4 linked regions of the Homo sapiens genome follow. The protein of the gene in region 3 interacts with the protein of the main gene of each other region in a pairwise test. Each region holds a gene or a part of one and is shown on either strand. Other genes may lie near its edges. The genes, in order: TRIM23, CCHCR1, CIMIP4 and MEOX1.

Region 1 (4,560 bases), on a different chromosome or scaffold from region 3:
CTTTCCATTATCAGCACAGATGGTCTGCATTATTTTTAATATCAGAATTCCCTTCCATTGTGTGGCTGCAACATAATTTAACCAGTCCTATACTGAATGTTCAGATTGAAGTTTTATGCTTATGTGCTATTATAAATCCATATATATACACATACATACATAAACATACATACACAAAAGTTGACATACATTTATGTATATTTGCAAAATTATCTGTAGGATAACCTTTGGATATCTGTCTACCAGATATATAAAGGTAGAATTGCAGGGTAAGGGACTTTGATGAGTATTGCCAAATTGTCCTCCAAGAAAATGTCTCAGTTTAATAACCCACGAACAGTGTTGACCAGGCGCAGTGACTCACACCTGTAATCCCAGCACTTTGGGAGGATGAGGCGGGCAGATCACTTGAGGTCAGGAGTTTGAGACCAGCCTGACCAACACGATGAAACCCTGAATCTACTAAAAATACAAAAGTTAGCCGGGTGTGGTAGCAAGCACCTGTAATCCCAGCTACTTGGGAGGCTGAGGCAGAAGAATCGCTTGAACCTAGGAGGGGGAGGTTGCAGTGAGCAGAGGTTGTGCCACTGCACTCCAGCCTGGTGACAGAGCAAGACTCAGTCTCAAAATAATAATAGTAACAGTTGTATATAAGTCTGAGGATTATAAAACACTTTCATCTTTAACTATCTGATGAGCAGAAAATGGTATTTCACTGACTTATTTGCATGTCTTAAATATACCAGTTCTTAATAGTTTGCCTTTTTTATTAAGGGGAAAATTCTTTATTCTTCATCCTACTCTTCCCCTCCCATGACATCTCCTCTGCTCCACTTCTACTCTCCTTCTGCCTCTACTTAAAAGCATCTCATCCTCCTAGAAAGGCTCAAGGTCTAGGAATCTTCAGCTACTCCCAGTCCTTCATCCTCCCCATTCAGTCACCAGTTCTGCCTCAAAGTCTTTTCCATCTGCCTCCGCCTTTCTATTCCTCTAATTCAGGCTCTTGTTAATGCTCACTTGAATTATTTAAGCAATTTACTGCATCTCCCTGTCTCCAGTCCTTTGCCCTGATTCATTCTACCCCTAGAATTATAGTATTGAAACACTGATATGATCTTATTACCCACTAATCCAACATTTTGATGACTCCTCCTTGCTCATAGAATAAAACCTAAATTTCTCAGTCTAGCACTGTCAGACCTTTACAGCATGGCCTTGTCTGTTATTCTAAATTCTCTTCATCCTCTACTGAGACCTGACATATAGATCTGCTTGATGTTCCCTAAACTAAAAACATTCATGCTATTATCTTCTCTGTCTATAATGTTCTTCCTTTCACATACTGACTCAGCCTCATGCATAATTTCAACTCAAATTCTACATTTTACAATCTTACAACATGCCACATTTAGAACTACTTTCCTAATTCCCGTAACACTGTGTTACTTAAGTTACTTATCAGTCTTCTTCGTATTCAGATCTCTTATGTGTTCATATGCATACACAGGAGTTTCTGGTGAGCATTAACTACCTTATTTCTATTTTGTATACTCCCAGGTACCCAGCACAGCATTTTCACATAGATTGTACTCAAAATACACAGAAGAAACTATAAATATCTATTGAACTGATTGTCTTCTGAAATATTTCCAGTTGCCTTTTGACATGCACAAAACTACTAAAATAAATATTCCAATATAAAAATGCATTACCTGTTTGTTAGCAAAAATCAGGAGCAGAGCATCTCGGAGTTCTTTTTCCGTTAACAACTTTGCAAGTTCGCTGTGTGCTTCACTAATTCTGTCTCTATGACTGCTATCTACAACAAACACAACAGCTACCCAAAAAAAAATAAAAAAAACAAAAATAGTCACTTGCTAAAGTTCAGTAAATGAACCAAATATTTAATGATATCATTATTATGTTATGGTTAGAGTTTGTCTACCATCATTATTTTCACACAGAGGGTGCCTAGTATGGCAGGGGCACCTACAAATAATTAACAGTATGATTTCAAGTAGTTTACATAACTTCTCAGGTTTAGTTTCCCCATCTAGGAAAGGATTTACAACACTTGCTCTATCAAATGCAAATTGGTCTGTATATCAAATAACTTTTTACATAACGAATTTCAAAATATGCCTCATGATCCTCTACCTATGGATGCTACTTGTTCTTCGAATACTACTTTTCTAATATTTAGTCTTTGAATAAAAGACTAAAAGATAAAAACCATCACCATTTTTATTTCTCCAAAGTATTATGTCTAAGTTAACTATCTCCAGACTTTCAACCATTCCTCATATTCAAAATTTCATTTTTGTAGGGCACAGTGGCTCACACCTATAATCCCAGCACTTTGGGAGGCTGAGGTGAGAGGATCACTTGAGCCCAGGAGTTCGAGACCCCTGGGCAATATAGTGAGACCTTATCTCTATTAAAAAAAAATTAAAAATTAGCTGAATGTGGCCGGGCGCGGTGGCTCGTGCCTCTAATCCCAGCACTTTGGGAGGCCAAGACGGGCGGATCACGAGGTCAGGAGATGGAGACCATCCTGGCTAACATGGTGAAACCCCGTCTCTACTAAAAATACAAAAAAATTAGCCAGGCATGGTGGTGGGCACCTGTAGTCCCAGCTACTCAGGAGGCTGAGGCAGGAGAATGGCGTGAACCTGGGAGGCGGAGCTTGCAGTGAGCCGAGATCGCACCACTGCACTCCATCCTGGGCGACAGAGCAAGACTCGATCTCAAAAAAAAAAAAAAAAAAAAATTAGCTGAATGTGGTGGCATATACCTAGTCCTAACTACTTGGGAAGTTAAGGTGGGAAGATTGCTTGAGCCCAGGAGACAGAGGTGACCATGAAATGCAATCATGCCACTGTACTCCTGCCTGGGCAACAAAGCAAGATTCTGTCTCAAAAAAAAAATACATTTTTTCTATTAATTATGGCTCATAATAATATCAAAAATCCCAAAGTAAAAATAATTATTCAGTCTCTCATCTTGGTGGAAAGCAGAATAACATACAGAATAAGCGGCATGAGCGTAAGCATTATGTTGGGGTCTATGAGGCAGAAGTGTAGAGTAAGACCCAAATGTGACTAAAACCTATGTAGAGTATAGATATGATATAATACGGTTTGGTCAAAAGCAAGCTACTGTAAGTTCTTCTGCAGGTAATAACTATTTGTGAAAGAAATGTGGGAGTGGGGCTATAGTGAGATTATAATGGGATAAATGTTGAGTTTAACTGAATTCAGCAGAATCATACAACATAAATTCAACTCTATACCACTACGCTACCAGCAGTCACACCCATATAATACTGGTAATATACACTCTCTGTTAAGAGAAGCAAGAGTACTCTTAACTGACTACATATCTAAGCTACGTATGGTTTTTATTCTGTAATAATGGTATATCAGGAATAAACTAAAAGTATATATCCTAATCTTTCTACTTTCATTTTTTACAAGTTAAGAAACTGGCCACAGGTACTTAAGTATACAGTCAACGACTTAATCATAAGTATCAGCTTTGCTAGTTAAATCAGTACACTGAAAACTGTCATCCTAAAAATGTGAAAAATTAAATGTCATTTTTAACTCTCACCTTGAGTATTGAGGTAATAATGTTTCCACAATGGTCTTAATTTGTGTTTTCCACCTACATCCCAAATAGTGAATTTTAGATTTTTATATTCTACAGTTTCCACGTTAAAACCTGTTTTAAAAAAAAAGTTACTTTTATACTATATTTGTATTTACAATGAATGACATATCAAACACAGACAACCCCCAGTTTATAACTGTGACTTATCAAATTATCTACATGCAGCAATATCTACTGAAGCCTAATCAACCCCATTCCTACTCCTACGTGGTGAATGTATACCTGTAACAGCTCCTAGCCCTCTAAACCTCCACCAAGGTCCTTAGGACCTTGGGATCCATGTACCTTCCAGCTCTGTTCCACAACTACCCCCCACCCCACACCCTCAGCCAGGATCACCAATCCTCTATTCCTTCCAACTGTCCCACCAATACTCTGTTTCTTCTTTTTATCCCCATCCACATTTCAATCCCATAGTCATACAATCTTGCATTTTTTCTCTGAGATGCTGATATCTTAGAGCCAGAAAAGAGCCCACCACCATGACAGATCAGTATCAAATAAGACCCCAAGAACTTGGCTGTAAGCTAGGGTTTGTCTATTAAGGTAAAAACCAATATTCATACTTACCAATTGTTGGAATGGGCTGCATGAATTCATCCTGTTTTAACTTAAACAAGATAGTAGTTTTTCCAGCACCATCCAATCCTAACGTAACGACCCGAATTTCCATTTTTGGTCCAATGTGAACTCGATTATCCTACAATTTAAATATTTTTAAATATGTTTGACATGCAGTTAGAAAGTAATAGCATTTAGCACCTTTATTATTTCTACATCTCCTATTCATTCCTCAACCATTGCAATCTGAATTGTATTCCTCAAAATACTGAGTCTGATCTCAAGAAGATGAAATCCTTCCCCATGGCTAAATCTTGCCTTAGTAAA
Region 2 (4,560 bases), on a different chromosome or scaffold from region 3:
GCACCCTCACCTGCATGGTTTCCAGAAGCTTCTGTCGCTCCAGTTCCCATGTCTGGCTGTGGACCTCAGAAGGCACTTGTTCCCCAACATATTTTCTTAGATTCTCAACCAGGGTCACCTGAGCCTCCAAGTCTTCCTGGGTCTTGCTAGGGTTGGGGTGGGAATGGGACAGCCATCAGTGGGGCGCCCTGCAGATCCACCACATCACTAATTGCTGGGCTCCCGTCGGCGTCCGCCCACCTACCTCAGCTGCTTCCGAAGCAGCTCGGCCTCCCTCTGAGCCTCGGCCAGCTCCTTGGCTTCCCCTGCTCTTCTGGTTTCCAGACTACTCAGAGACTTCTCCAAGCCCTCAGCCTTGCTGGTCAAACTGGAAAGAGCCTCCTCGTGAGCCTGTGTCAAAGAGGACAGCTGCGGAAAGAAGAGGGGGCTCAGCAGAGGCTCGACCCCACATGGAGGCCTTCCTTGTTCCCTTCACTCCCACTTTCTGTGACCTTAGAGAATGACCCAACCAATCAGCCAACTGTGCACAGCAAATGGAGAGCTGGCAACTCACTCTCCGCAGCTGCCCCACAACCCATCAGGAGTTCTTGTCCGATCTCCCCCAAAACATATCTTCACCTCTCTGTCTCCGTCTCCACTGCCACCAACCCTCATCTTTTGCCTGGGCAACAGCGACCATCTCCTAACTAGTCTTTACAAACCCTCAGTGGCTTCTCACAGCATTCACAACAAAACCCAGGTGTCTCTCCACACCTGCAGGCCAGGGGACCCGGCCTCTGCCTACCTCCTGAGCTCACCCTGGAGGCTCTCCCACTGCTCCCCGCTCCGGCCACGGGGAGTCTGCTGAGAACCAGACAGCGGCCCCTCCTTGCTCCACAGACCCCAGGCGATAGCCCCTCCTCAGGGTGGCTTCACTGGGCCCTCTAATACCGTCCCTCCCCACCCTACTCTGCCCCATCAGCTGTTCACGTCCTCCTGAGCACTTAGCACTGACCATATCTTGCTTATGTGTATGTGTTACTATCTGTCGGACCACACTGGAAGGAAAGCTCCAGGAAAGGAGGAATTTTGTGTCTTTTGCTCATGGCACCTCAAAGGGTTGCAGGGGTGTCAGAGCCACCAAGAGTCATGGGATGGACTGGAAAGGAGGGCAAAGTGCCCACCCTGCTTCCTGGTCTGCCTCCTCTAGCCCTGTCTCCATACAACAATAAAATTAATTTGGGGGACATAAATGACAAAATTTTTTAGACATAAAATACAAATCTAATCATGTTATTTCCCTGCTTAAAACCTTTCAACAGGCCGGGCGCAGTGGCTCATTCCTGTAATTCCAGCACTTTGGGAGGCCGAGGTGGGTGGATCACAAGGTCAGGAGATCGAGATCATCCTGGCTAACATGGTGAAACCCCGTCTCTATTAAAATACAAAAAATTAGCTGGGCGTGGTGGCGGGCGCCTGTAGTCCCAGCTACTCGGAAGAATGACTTGAACCCGGGAGGCGGAGCTGGCAGTGAGCCAAGATCGCGCCACTGCACTCCAGCCTGGGCGACAGAGCGAGACTCCATCTCAAAAAAAAAAAAAAAACAACCTTTCAACGGTTGCTTATTACTTGAAAAAACAATTTTTTTTTGTTTGTTTTTTTGGAGATGGAGTTTCACTTTGTTGCCTAGACTGGAGTGCAATGGCACGATCTCAGCTCACTGCAAACGCTGCCTCCCAGGTTCAAGCGATTCTCCTGCCTCACCCTCCTGAGTAGCTGAGATTACAGGCATGAGCCACCACGCCCAGCTAATTTTTGTATTTTTAGTAGAGATGAGGTTTTACCATGTTGGCCAGGCTGGTCTCGAACTCCTGACCTCAAGTGATCCACCCGCCTCAGCTTCCCAAAGTGCTAGGATTACACATGTGAGCAACCATGCCCAGCCCTAATTTCTTCCATAAAATAGAGATGGGGGTCTCGCTTTGTTGCCCAGGCTGGTCTCAAACTCCTGGGCTCAAATGATCCTTCCACCTTGGCCTCCCAAAGTGCTAGGATTACAGGTATGAGCCACTGTGCCCAGCCTGCTCATTGCTCTTATGGGAAAGTAGCAAGTTCTGAAGTGGCCAAAGCCTTGTGCCCTGGGCCCTGGGCTCTGCAGCACACTCAGTGCCCCTCATCTCTGTGCCCCAGCCTTCTGGCCTCCTGTCCCCGCCTTCACCTGTTGTCCCACCAAGTGTCTTCCAGCTACCACTGGACTTCACACGCCTCTTCACTGGCCAACTCCTATTCAGCACAAACGGTAGCTTGTTGTTTTTTTAGTCTCGCTCTGCTGCCCAGGCTGGAGTGTGATGTCAGCTCACTGTAACCTCTGTCTCCCAGGTTCAAGCAATTCTCCTGCCTCAGCCTCCCAAGAAGCTGGGGGATTACAGGCGCCCACGACTATACCCGGCTAATTTTTGTATTTTTTTGTAGAGTTCTTCATGTTGGCCAGGTTGGTCTTTAACTCCTGGCCTCAAGTGATCCGCCCACCTCGGCCTCCCAAAGTGCTGGGATTACAGGCATGAGCCACTGTGCCTGGCCTAGCTTCTTGTTTCTAAGTTTCTTTCATAAATCTCCTTTGTCCATTTTCTGATTGGATTGCTGGTCTTTCCCTTACCAATTTCTAGGCACACATTTTATATTAGGGATATTACCCTTTTCTTGTGATCTGAGCTATAAATATAGCTTTTTTTTTTCTTTTTGGCTATTCCTAATGTTCATGTTATAAAGTCAATGGATCAATTTTTTCCTTTATGGCTTCTAGATTTTGGATTTTGACTCACAGGTAGAAAGGCCTTGCCCACTACAAGGTTATAAAGGAATTCTCCCTTGTTTTCTCCCAGTTCCTTTTTTATTTTATTTTTTGAGACAGAGTCTTGCTCTGTCGCCCAGGCTGGAGTGCAATGGCACAGTCTCGGCTCACTGCAACCTCCACTGCCCAGGTTCAAGTGATTCTCCTGCCTCGGCCTCCCAAGTAGCTGGGATTACAGGTGCGCACCACCACGCCTGGTGAATTTTTGTATTTTTAGTAGAGACAGGGTTTCGCCATGTTGGCCAGGCTGGTCTTGAACTCCTGACCTTGTGATCTGCCTGCTTCGGCCTCCCAAAATGCTGGGATTACAGGCGTGAGCCACTGCGCCCAGGGCTATGGTTTCTTTCCTTGACATGTCAACTGGTTACAGTGGCCTTCCCTGAACCCCAGACTAAGTTAGTGCTTTCTAGTCCTTCTCCTTCAAGGCATTCCTCCTGATTGCAATTAATTATGATTAAATTAAATGTGGATGTGTATATCCCCCACGAGGCTGTCAGTTCCATCCACGAAGGCAGGACTCAGGCTAATTTGGTCACTGAGTCTTAGAGATGGCAAAGAGTAAGTACTGAGTTTGAGGACTGAATAATCTCTCTCTCCCAGTCCACCATAGCCCCCTTATACCCACCTTCCTCACTGCCCTCCACAATACCCCTGATGAATTGGTACCTGGAGTAAAGTAGGGAGGCAAACTATTTCCTACTAGAAAGGGAAGCAGGGCTTCAAGTGGTGGGAGGCCACCTGAGTCTTGGGGGAAAAGTGCAACCTGAATTAAGATAAAAGTACCCAAATTCTCCATCTTTCTAGGCCATGTGTGTTTATTTTCACCAAAGGTCTCATCACTCTACTACTCACTACTCATGGAGGGTCTTTTCTGCAATACCTGTTCTTTGCTTGGAAGCTACTGCCCAGCTCTCCGTTATGAATTTGAATCCTTTCTACCCCTGCATTCACCTGCTCTTGGTGCAGCCTCTGAACCTCTTCCAGCTCCCGCTGGCTCCCCTCTTCCAAGTTCTTCCGGACAACCTCAGCCCCAGCCAAAGCAGCACGCAGGCCCTCAGCCTCAGCTCGGCCGGCCTTCTCCGCCCGTGCCAGAGCCTCTAGCTCCATGGCCTGGGCCTCTAGCCTCATCTTCTGCTGCAGCGAGGTCTCCCGCAGGAGCCGGACCTCCTCCTCCAGCCGCCGCAGCTCTTGCAGCTGCCGAACGATCACCTCAGCCTGCTGGCTCAGGGCCTGTGACCCCTCCAGCCCCCAGGACCTTCAAAGACAGGTTAGTGCAGGTGAGACTTGTCTCCAGTGCTGGAAGGATAGTTGAGGGCATAAACATAGCCAGGAGAAGGAAAAGAGGACCCCTCTGCTTCCGTGTGGGGAGGTGAAGGGGGTGCTGAAGCTGGGGTATGGGGATGTCTGCATTGACATCATCATCATTCATCAAAGCCCTATTGAGCATGTTGAGTCCAGTGCCTGGACTCACAGGACCTAAAGTCTGGCTGAGATCGTGGAACATGATCTCCCTAGAGAGAGCTACATACAGGAGGATTCAACATCAAATGTGTATATCATTAGGCCACACATTCTTTTTGTTTTTTGGTGGTTTTTTTGTCTTATTTATTTTTTTATTTTTAGGCCACACATTTTAAGTGGAAAGGTTGGAAGAACACACAGGGACTTCTCAATTCTAATTTAAGGGCAAGAAGTTTGAGGGAGGAATGGGCATAGAGAGGTCGTAAGCT
Region 3 (5,044 bases):
TCCCACCTCAGCCTCCTGAGTAGCTGGGATTACAGGTGTGCACCACCACATCTGGCTAATTTTTGTATTTTTAGTAGAGACAGGGTTTCACCATGTTGGCCAGGCTGATCTCTAACTCCTGGCCTCAAGTGATCCACCCGCCTCAGCCTCCCAAAGTGCTGGGATTACAGGTGTGAGCCACCGTGCCCGGCCTGTGACTTCGGTTTTGTTTGCTCTCTTTCCCTGGTTCTCCTTGGTTTGCTCATTCTGATGACAGCAAATGCCGTGTTTTGAGCTGCCCTGTGGAGCAGCCCATGGAGCAAGAAACTGAGGGTGACTTCTGGCCAAAAGCTCATAAAGAATAGAAGCCCTGAGTCCAACAGTCTTTGAAGAACTGAATGAATCCTGACACCTGAATGAGCTTGAAAGTGGATCCTTCCCCAGTTGAGCCTTGATATGAGAACACAGCCTGGATGACACTTTCATTACAGCCTGTGGGATACCCTGGGCCAGAGGACCCAGCCAAGTGAGCATCCTGACTCCTATAAGTTCTGAGATCATAAATTTGTACTGTTTTAAACATACAGTGTCAAACTTCTAAGCTTTATGGTCATTTGTTACGCAGCAATACATAGCTAATACATATTTTGGTACTAACAGTGGGGTGTTGCTATAACAAATACTTAAAAATTTGGGACTGAACTTGGAACCAAGCGGTGGTCAGAGTCTATAAGGATTTTGAGAAGCATGATAGAAAAAGCCTAAATCACCTTAAACAGTTTTTTTTTTTTTTTAAGCAGAAATCTGGAGTTGGAAGATGCAGTGAGTGAGGGCCCAAATGGAAGTGAGGAATATATTACTAGAAATAGTGGAAGAAAGACCCTTGTTATGTAGTGGCAGAAACAGTGACACTGTCATCTGCAGTTATGTGACTAATGAACTGAATGATTTAGCTAAAGAGTTCCAAAGAAAAGATGGTAGTTGCCTCTTACTTTCTTCTTGCTGCTTGTAGTGAAATGTGAGAGGAAGGTGATGAATTGAAGAAGGGACTGTTAAACAAAAAGATGCCAGTACTTAATGGTTCTGAAGTCTCATCCTTTCCAGATCCCAAAAGATGCTAAAATTAAGAAATAGCTTCAGAAGGCTGTCTGGAAAGTGTGCCCAGGAGTGTGACTGTGCGACCTGTTGTTAAAACTTCAGAAAGATCAAAGGATGAGGGTATTACTCTGTCAAACAAAGGGTGCTTTAAAGAGATTAAAGAGATGCCTGATATATCCTCTTAACAGAACCATAGGACCTCTAGGAAGCTTAAGGCTCCTCAACAGGAGCCTCAGTTAAAAAGGGGTGTGACTTTTGTTCAATGGAGTGAACCCCTGTAAGTTTTACTGTTGAGAAAATAACATCAGCAAAATGTTGGCAACTTCGGGTAAAAGGGATAGAGACAGTACAAAATGAAAAGATACCATTGAACAAAAAATAAAAATAAAAAAGACAAGTCAGAGAGTGGATGCAAGAGTCCAGAAGGCAGAGCTGAGAGCCATGGAGAATTATCCCCAGGCCTTGAAACCTAATCAAGGAATGTCCAACATTTGTGTGGCTGGATTTCAAAACCGCTATGGAACATTGACTCCATGTCTCCATTTTCCTCAATTTTGAATAGGAATGTCACTAGTTCTTATCCTATGCCTATCACATCACTGTATGTTAGGTGTGTTCAGGGCAAATTACTTAGTTTCACAGATCTATGATGGGGAAGAATTGAATCTGAGAAGCTGTACTTAAGGAACGACACTGGAGGAGCCTCAGCCACACCTGGAGCTGATTTATATGACCAGATTCTAGCTTTTAAACTGATGCTTTAATAGGATGAGAATTTTAAAGATCTTAGGAGGGGATGACTATATTTTGCATGTGGAAGGGATGTACATTATTGGGGGCCAGAGGGCAGAGAGTGGCAGGCAGTTGACATGGCTCCCAATGATCCCTGTTTCTTGGTATAATTCTCTCCCCTTTGGTGTGGACTGGACATAGTGATGAATGGAATGTGGCAAAAATGAGGGATGTTGCATCCATGATGAACTTATAAGAGACTACAACTTCTGTCTTTTTCACACACTCTCTGCAGCTCTCCTCAGCTCATCTTCTCTGACAGAAGCCAGTTTCCCTGTTGTGAGATGCCCTATGGAGAGGTCCACAGGGCAAGGAACTCAGAGTGGCCTCTTGCCAACAGCTCCAGAGTAGCTGGATCCTGCCATGTGAATGGGTTCCTTCTCTGGTCGAGCTTTGAGATGAGACTAGAGACCCAAGCAACACCTTGATTGCAGCCTGTGAGAGACCCTGGGACAGAAAAATCACCAACACTCCACCGGTATTCCCAACTCACAGAAACTGTGAGATAGTAAATGTTGTCTTAAGCCCACTAAGTTTTGGGGTGATTTGTTGTGCAGCAAGAGATAACTAACACAAGTCCATGTCAAGCATTCTCACATCTGGTAAATTAGTCTGGTCTTCACAAATACCCAGTAAGGTGTTCGGAGACACTACTAATTTATCTTCTTTCACAGATGGAGAAAATGAGGCTCCGAAAAGACACAGGACTTCACCAGGTGGGGCTAAAATTAAATTGCACATCTTCAAGCTAGGTGAAGTTCAAGTTAGCTCCAAGTTTTCTTTCTCCTCCTATCCCCAGCCACCAACCTGACGTGCCCACGGCAGCTCTGTACGTCCCAGTGCACTGCCAGTCCACAGCAGTCTGGACGGGCTACAATGGAAGTGTGGACTCACTTCCAGTTTCTGACCCAGAGAGAGAGATCCCAAGAGACTTTGGTCAAAGAGGGCGGGAAGGTAAGTCCAGTCTAGGCAGTCTTCACTCACAAGCAACTCTGAATGGGGAGAAGGAAGATGAAACCCCATGTCCTGGAAGAACCCTGGCCCTTCATAAGTCTCTGCCTCACCTCTCCAATCTCTTTCATAACAGCAGGAAACACGTGAACCACACTGATGTGTGCTGAAGCCCAGAAGTGCAGATCCCCACTGCAGAACTACTGGTGAAGACCAATGGATGGTTGCTGGGAAGTGGCCCTCCCCAAGATGTTCATTGGAGTTGCCATGGTGATCACTATACACAGGGCTCTGTTACCTCAGAGGGCTGATAGGCCCACCCGTAGGGAAAAGAGGCCAGGAGAAAGCCAGGATTGAGGCCAGGAAAAGGCAGGAGGGGCTTCAATTATTGTTCACTCTCTCATCCACTCTAGAATGTCAGTTGAGCCCCCACTACATGCCAGGTGTGCCAGGCACAGGGGGCTCAGATGCTACCAAGTGCAAAAGATGTTCTTGGGAGCTCAAAGCACTAAGTAGGGAGAAGAACTAGCTCTGTGTAGGAAAAAGGAGGAAGGACTTATGAAAGAGCCATTTGAGTTGGATCTTGAAGGATGCCTAGGAACTTAACAGTTTTGAAGGGATGAGAATATTAAAGGCATGGATGTGTATAACAGCATAAATGTAGGTCGAGGTCAATGGGGAAGGAGAAAGATGCATCTGGAGCTGTCTGATTTGGACACCCAGGGATCAGGGACCTGGGAGTAAAACTAAAGGAAGGGTCCTCTCTCCTATTCCTAAACAACAAGGGCTACAGAAGGAGATCAACAAAATTAAGTGACTTCTTTTCTGCAGAGAAGAAGGAGGCAGAAGTCATTGGTGCCAGCACTGGCCCATTCCTGTCTGGCTGTTGCTCAGCCTGGACAAAGAGTGGGTATAGTGAACGCCTCCTGCAAGCCCAGCCTTTCAGGATTTCCCCAGGAAACAGAGAGTGCTGTGGTTAAACTTGGAGTCCCCAGAATCTGGGCCTGTCACTTATTAGATAAGAGACTGGCCAAGTCCTTTAGCTGAACTTCCTTCACATGTGAAACAGATATCACCCAACACTAAGGATAAGGGTGATGGGCGAATAAAACAATTTTTTGCAAAATGTAGCACATTGCCTTGCACAGAGAGAGACATCACAAAACTCTAAGCTACTTCCGCAAGCAACCCATCAGCAAGTCCTTCGAAGTACACTAGATTTGGATGCCTTCGTCCACCTCCACAACTCCCCCTACTCCCTGGTCCAAGCCACCCTCATCTCTTGCCTAAGTATTATCTATTGCTGCACGACAATCTTGCCATAAACTTCGAAGCTTAACATACAACTGTTATCTCACAGTTTCTTTGGGTCGGGTGTCTACTCATGGCTTAGCTGAGTTCTCTGCATTGGGGTCTTAGCAGGCTACAATCCAAGTATTGGCCAGGGCTGCAGTCTCATCTGAGGTTCCACTAGGGAAGAATATGCTTCCAAGCTCATGTGGCTGTGGGAGGATTCAGTTCCTTGCAGTCTGTTAGACTGAGGGTCTCAGGCTCTCTCTGGCTGTCAGCCAGAGGCCATCCTCAGTTCCTTGCTATGTGGGCCCCCCAACACCAACATGACACTGACTTCATCAAAGCCAGCAAAGAGGGAGTCCCCTTGCAAGATGGGGCATTACAATGTTGTGTACCATAGTCACAGAAGTGGCATCCATCACCTTTGCCGTAGGCTGTTGGTTAAAAGCAAGTCACGGGTCCCACCCGCAGTGAAAGGGAGAGGGTCACACGGGGCATGAACACGAGGGGGCAGATAATATGGGGACCACCCTGGAGTCCACCATATCCTCTGACAGTCTTCTCACTCAACAGCCCAGCAATCCTGTTAAGACCTATATTAGATCATATGTCACCCCTCTAAACAAAACCTTCCAGCTCAACCACAGTAAAAGCTGACATCCTCCCATTTATCTGCAAGGCCCTACCCAACCTGTCCACCATTTTTCTCTGACCTCTGCTCCTCTCACTTTCCCAAGTGCTCCCTGGGTCCCTGCCATGCCAGGCTCTGCTGTTTTTTGGGCACACCAAGCACAGTCCCTCCTCGGGGCCTTTGCACGGGCTGTTCCCTCTCCTCTCCTGCAACTTCCTTCCCCCACATGCCTACATGGCTTGCCTCTTCACCTCCTTCAAGACTCTGCTCACCTTCCCAGACCACCTTTTCTTAAAAAGC
Region 4 (5,181 bases), on a different chromosome or scaffold from region 3:
CATCTCAAAAAGAAAAAAAAAAAAAAGAAGTTCAGAGAGATAAGGTGACTTGTTCCAGGGCACACAGCCAGGAAGTGGCAGACCTGGGGCTTGAACTCAGACCCGTCTAACCTCAAACCCCATGCCTCCTCCTCTGCATCTGGCCTGCTCCAAACTGAACAGCAGGACACCTGAGGCCAAGTGCTGATTCCACCATTTCTTAGCTGTGTGAGTCTGGGCAGCCCAGTCATCCATCTGAGCCTCGGTTTTGTCATCTGCAAAATGGAGACATAATTCTTACTTACCCATCCTAGGAAAGTTGTGAGGCTCAGAGAATTGTGTGTGCCACAGCTAAGCCCTGGGCAAAGCAGAAAGATGAGTCTGGTTGACAGCTATGACCCCATCCACTCTACTGGTCTACAACACTCTGACCGCTTGTTCCAGAAGAGGGCACATCTTTTCATATGTACACCCCTCCCCATCTTTTACAGCTGCTCCTGCTCCCAGGATGTGTATCTGACTGGAGTTTCTGGATTAAAGGCCAGTCGTGGCTTCATTCCACATCCCTGGGTGCCCTTCGGCTCCTCCTAGGAGCATCTCCTGCACCCACCCCCCAGGGCCCCACCTCCAGGCTGCAGAGCTAAGACCTAGGGGCCCCTCCTCAGGGAACCCTCGCCGTCTTTGGAAGCAGCCAGCAGAGACGCTGCTGTTAAGGTCCATGCCTGTTTCTGCCCCCATCCTGCTGCTCTGGGCCATGGGAATAACCAGTGGGGAAGGAGTTCTGGCCCCTGGGTGTTAGGAATGTCGTCCTCCAAGAAATTGCATTAACCCTCTGAGAGACCAGCAGGGCGCAGCCATGAGGAAGACTGGGCATCAAGATGGCACTTGGGCTGGCTGCCCTGTGATGTGCACCAGCCCGGAGACCCACGTGCCTGCTTGCCAAAGAGGCTCCTTTGGGGAATGAGGAGCCCCTGATTCCTATTTCCCTACCCCAAATTCCTCGGAAGCCTCCGCCTCTGGGGGATGAGAAAGGGAAGCAGGTGGGTGGAGGTGAAGGGGGCAGGGAGCAGGTGGGAGGAGACCCGAAGAAACTTCAAGGACCTTATTTAAGAGCCTTGCCATTGCTGTGAAGAAAAATGACTTGAAACCTCTCTAGAGAAGAGTGTGGCTAATTGGCATGTATGTTGGAGGTTAAAGAGCGGAAGGAAGAATCTGATTGTTTTTTTAAGTTACTGAGAAAGTGAGAATGTCACTCTGGGCAGAGAGAAATTCTTTTTTTCTAGAGTGTGCCTTTCTTTGTACTGCAGACCACAGTGGGCCGCTGAGACTTGCAAAAAAGATTTCTTTTAATCCACCTTCCTTTTTCGCAGGCAGCAGTAGAAGGGCCTTTAAATCAAATGCAATCACCAAGCTTGTCTCTTGCTCTTATTCCTCACTTCACTCCCTGGAATTTGGCATTTGATGGATTCTGGATCTGACTTAAGGCTTTTTCTAAATCCAAGACTTGGGGAATTTTGTTAACAGTGCAATAAAAATAACTTCATAGTGTTACAGGAGGCACATTAAAGACGGTGTGTGTGTATGTGTGTGTGTGCTGCTCTCTTTCCTTAAAAAAAAAATACAGACAATGTTTCTTTAAAAGTCTCCATCTGCAAATCCCATTAGATGTGCATATAAGGTTTCTGATGATTAATAGTTGCCTGCTAGGGTTTTGGTTGGAGGGGATCTTGTGTGTGTGGGTTAACCCCTCCCTCTCCTCTCTCACATTTCACTTCAGAAATTTGTCACTCTCTCCCCACCGCAGGATTTAAAAGTGTGTCCCAGCAGCCCTGGTCCAGCCCTCTGCAGGCATTTGCTCTGGGCTCCAGGACGAACTCCTCGTCAGCTGGTGCGTCTGGGTTGGGACAGTGAAAATGTTTAGTGTCATTGGCGACAAATACACATACAGGGGATCCCAGTAGGTAGGCTGGTGCATTGGAGGGGCAGGAGCAAGCCCGACATAGGTGTGTGCACACACATAGGAGTAGCTGGCCACATGTGTGTGTACTTTAAGGAGAGACTTTAGTTTTGGGTTTTTTTTTTTTTTTGGTTCCTGGGGTAAATTTTCTGTTGAACATTTTTCCCTCCTATTTAGTTTTTTTTCTTTTGCATTTTTAAAAATTTGAACATAAAAAGTATAAAGAATCAAATCTTTGAAAGGACCGAGGCGTGCAGCGGACAGCAGATGGATCCCGCGGCCAGCAGCTGCATGAGGAGCCTCCAGCCCCCAGCCCCTGTCTGGGGCTGCCTTCGAAACCCCCACTCGGAAGGCAATGGGGCCTCAGGGCTACCCCACTACCCGCCCACCCCGTTCTCCTTCCACCAGAAACCAGACTTCCTGGCGACAGCGACGGCAGCGTACCCTGACTTCTCAGCCTCCTGCCTGGCAGCCACCCCACACAGCCTGCCCCAGGAGGAGCACATCTTCACTGAGCAGCACCCCGCTTTCCCACAGTCCCCCAACTGGCACTTCCCTGTCTCAGACGCCCGGCGCAGGCCCAACTCAGGCCCGGCAGGGGGTTCCAAGGAAATGGGGACCAGCAGCCTGGGCCTGGTGGACACCACAGGAGGCCCAGGCGATGACTACGGGGTGCTTGGGAGCACTGCCAATGAGACAGAGAAGAAATCATCCAGGCGGAGAAAGGAGAGTTCAGGTAGGTGGCTCAGGAGCAGCTGATCATTCCTTTACTGTGTGACCCTGGGGAAGTTACTCACCCTCTCTGTGCCTAGGTGCTCTGAGCATGAATTTCTGTCTAGTCCATCCAAATGCAGGAGACTGGACCAGTTACCTTTGGGGTTTCTTCCACTGAGAGTTCTAGGATTCTCTGGTGATGGGGACCATGTCTGTGTCCCAGCACTCCTGGGCCCCAGAAAGGGTGTCCAGCAAGAGAATGAAACAGGATCAGCCAGGATTTGGAGGACACGTGAAATGGATCCTCTGGGTGCAGACTGGCGAGGGCTGGTGAGGGGCTTTCCTGAATCAGGCTGCCATTGAGTCATCCTCCTCCCCACCATGCTTTGGCCAGCCCCAAGTGGTCCTAGAGCCACAGGGCTCGCTTACCAGGGAAGTTCAGCTGAGGTTAAGGCTCTGAGAGCTAAGACTGAAGCTGGGACCCTGGGTGGCCACCCAAAGCCAAGACCCTATGTGTCCAGGAGCCTAGAGGCAGAGAAGCAGGCCTGCGGCTGGGATGGGAGAATCAAGGGGTGAGGGGGAGATGGAGGGCTGAGGTTTGGGGCAGACTGCCCACCAGATATCACCCTGCGGAGCTGGGCCATGTCCAGGCCAAGGGGACAGACAACTCAGCATGCTGAGATCTGGCTGACCCCCCAGGAAGGCAGCCCCGCAAGGAGCTGCAAGGGATGGGCAGCCTCTGAGAGAGTCAGGGAGGCAGGCAGCCAAGGGAGTCCGTGCTGGAGTCCCAGAGGCTGGAGGATGAGATTGGCCTATTTGTTAAGATTCCAGCTAAAGCCCTTCTCTTCCCCAGGGTGGGGACCTGCTGCTTCCTCACCTCCCCACCAGGCCCTCCCTGGTTGCTCACTATACCTGTCCACCTTTTGTCTGGTTCCTTGTCCCGGCCTCGTTCAGAACAAAGCAGTGACCAAGCCTCCTGCCCGTGCTGCCCTGTTTTCCTCCTGACAGCCGCCCTCAGGGGCACGCCTGTCTGTCGGAGCCTGTAGAGGACCTTCCCATGGGGCTAACCAGGGCAGGACAGAAAAGAAGGACACCAACCAACAGGTGGGAATGCTTTGTGCTTTGCTTTATAAGCACAGCTTTCCCGAGTTTCTGCTCTTAGCCAAGCCCAGGAATGCTCTGAGATGAATAAAGGGGTCTCACCCAAGAAAGCTCAAACTGAGAGGAAGAAGAGGCCTGCAGAGGTGTGTCAGCAGTGGGATGTGCCCTGATGGGGAGGCTTAAGGTGCCATGGGATACTGACGTCAGCTCTTTTGAGTCCCACGGGTTTGGGAGATGGGGACAGCAGGTTTTATTAGTACCTTGATTCTCTCAATCTGCAAAATGAAAGACTGAAAGTTGGTGAGAACACAGAAAGAATGGGGTCAAACTAGAGTGAGCAGCTCATCTCCATTTGCCCAGGACTTTTCCAGTTTTAGCACTGAAAATCCTGTCGTAGGAAACCCCACAGTCCCAGGCAAACAGAAGAATTGGTCACCCTAGAAGTGAGCTCAAACCCCAGGCTTCAGGCCCCCGGTATCACCCCCTTCAGTAGATTTCAAATGCAGTCCTCATTTTGAAATGATGTTTGGTCTGTCTGCTTGAAGAAGCCCCTTCTTCAATGGGAGATAGGAACTCTAGCAGCCCTCATGGCTGCTAAATAGAAGGGCCCTTTAAACCGCCAGCCAGTTAGATCCCCATCCCGAAAATTAACTCATCCTGCCCCTGGTAGGAAATGTGCTAAGGATGAGAAGCAACTCTCAGCGACTTGGCTCTGAACCTGGTTGAAGAGCTTTCCCCTTGGTGGCGGCACGCAGCACTGTGGCTCCTTCCTCTCTGCCACTTTCCAGAGAACTGACAGCCAAGGGCATTGGGAAGGGATAGCAAAGCCAAGAGCCTGCTGGGCTCAGGCAGAATCTTCCAGCATTCCGAGTCTCAGCAAAACCCAAATGCACCAGCTCTCTTTTTGGCGAGTGGCCGATGGCCCTGCAATGCAGAGAGACCATTCACACTAAGCAGCTGGCCACCCAGGAGTACAGGGACACCCTCGGCTGAACGGCCTGCATGCTTCAGGGTCAGACTTTGGTGGAGGGAGGTTCCCATCCGCAGGGGCCCTGGGCTTCCCTAAGGGTCCCCTCAGGAGCACCAGCAGCAGATGAGGCAGGGCCCAGTGAGCTGACTCTCACTCATCCCCCTGTGATTCCAGACAAACTCACTGTTCAGCATGGAAATCTTTATTGCCGCAATGCTTGCATCCTCCTTTGGAATTTAACTGAAGGGGAGGAAGGAGGCAAGAAAGATCAGCTTTGTAAGAGCCCAAAGAAGGGGGAAAGTGACGCAAGGCTCATGACCTACTCCAGGAATCTGGAATTCAGCTCAGAAAAGGCAAACCCACAGAGAGCCCCCCACCCAACCCTGCCAATCCTGAGTCTATAATTGGATCCCCTCTCCAAAATTGTGATATTTTGTTCATTATCAATTTTTTGCATTAC

What was found.
Region 1: the proteins of CIMIP4 (region 3) and TRIM23 interact in binary tests that used the Homo sapiens proteins (3 or more experiments, as listed by UniProt).
Region 2: the proteins of CIMIP4 (region 3) and CCHCR1 interact in binary tests that used the Homo sapiens proteins (3 or more experiments, as listed by UniProt).
Region 4: the proteins of CIMIP4 (region 3) and MEOX1 interact in binary tests that used the Homo sapiens proteins (3 or more experiments, as listed by UniProt).

The regions. Positions count from the first base shown.
Region 1 is NC_000005.10:65,592,809-65,597,368, forward strand, and holds part of TRIM23 (E3 ubiquitin-protein ligase TRIM23), read right to left. Parts: intron 4,373-4,560; coding exon 4,243-4,372; intron 3,724-4,242; coding exon 3,613-3,723; intron 1,838-3,612; coding exon 1,713-1,837; intron 1-1,712.
Region 2 is NC_000006.12:31,150,715-31,155,274, forward strand, and holds part of CCHCR1 (coiled-coil alpha-helical rod protein 1), read right to left. Parts: intron 4,086-4,560; coding exon 3,782-4,085; intron 409-3,781; coding exon 245-408; intron 147-244; coding exon 11-146; intron 1-10. UniProt on the Homo sapiens protein: May be a regulator of keratinocyte proliferation or differentiation.
Region 3 is NC_000022.11:37,004,796-37,009,839, forward strand, and holds the start of CIMIP4 (ciliary microtubule inner protein 4), read right to left. Parts: upstream 3,057-5,044; 5' UTR 2,934-3,056; intron 2,862-2,933; exon of another isoform or gene 2,677-2,861; intron 1-2,676.
Region 4 is NC_000017.11:43,658,557-43,663,737, reverse strand, and holds the start of MEOX1 (homeobox protein MOX-1), read left to right. Parts: upstream 1-1,815; 5' UTR 1,816-2,203; coding exon 2,204-2,672; intron 2,673-5,181. UniProt on the Homo sapiens protein: Mesodermal transcription factor that plays a key role in somitogenesis and is specifically required for sclerotome development. Required for maintenance of the sclerotome polarity and formation of the cranio-cervical joints.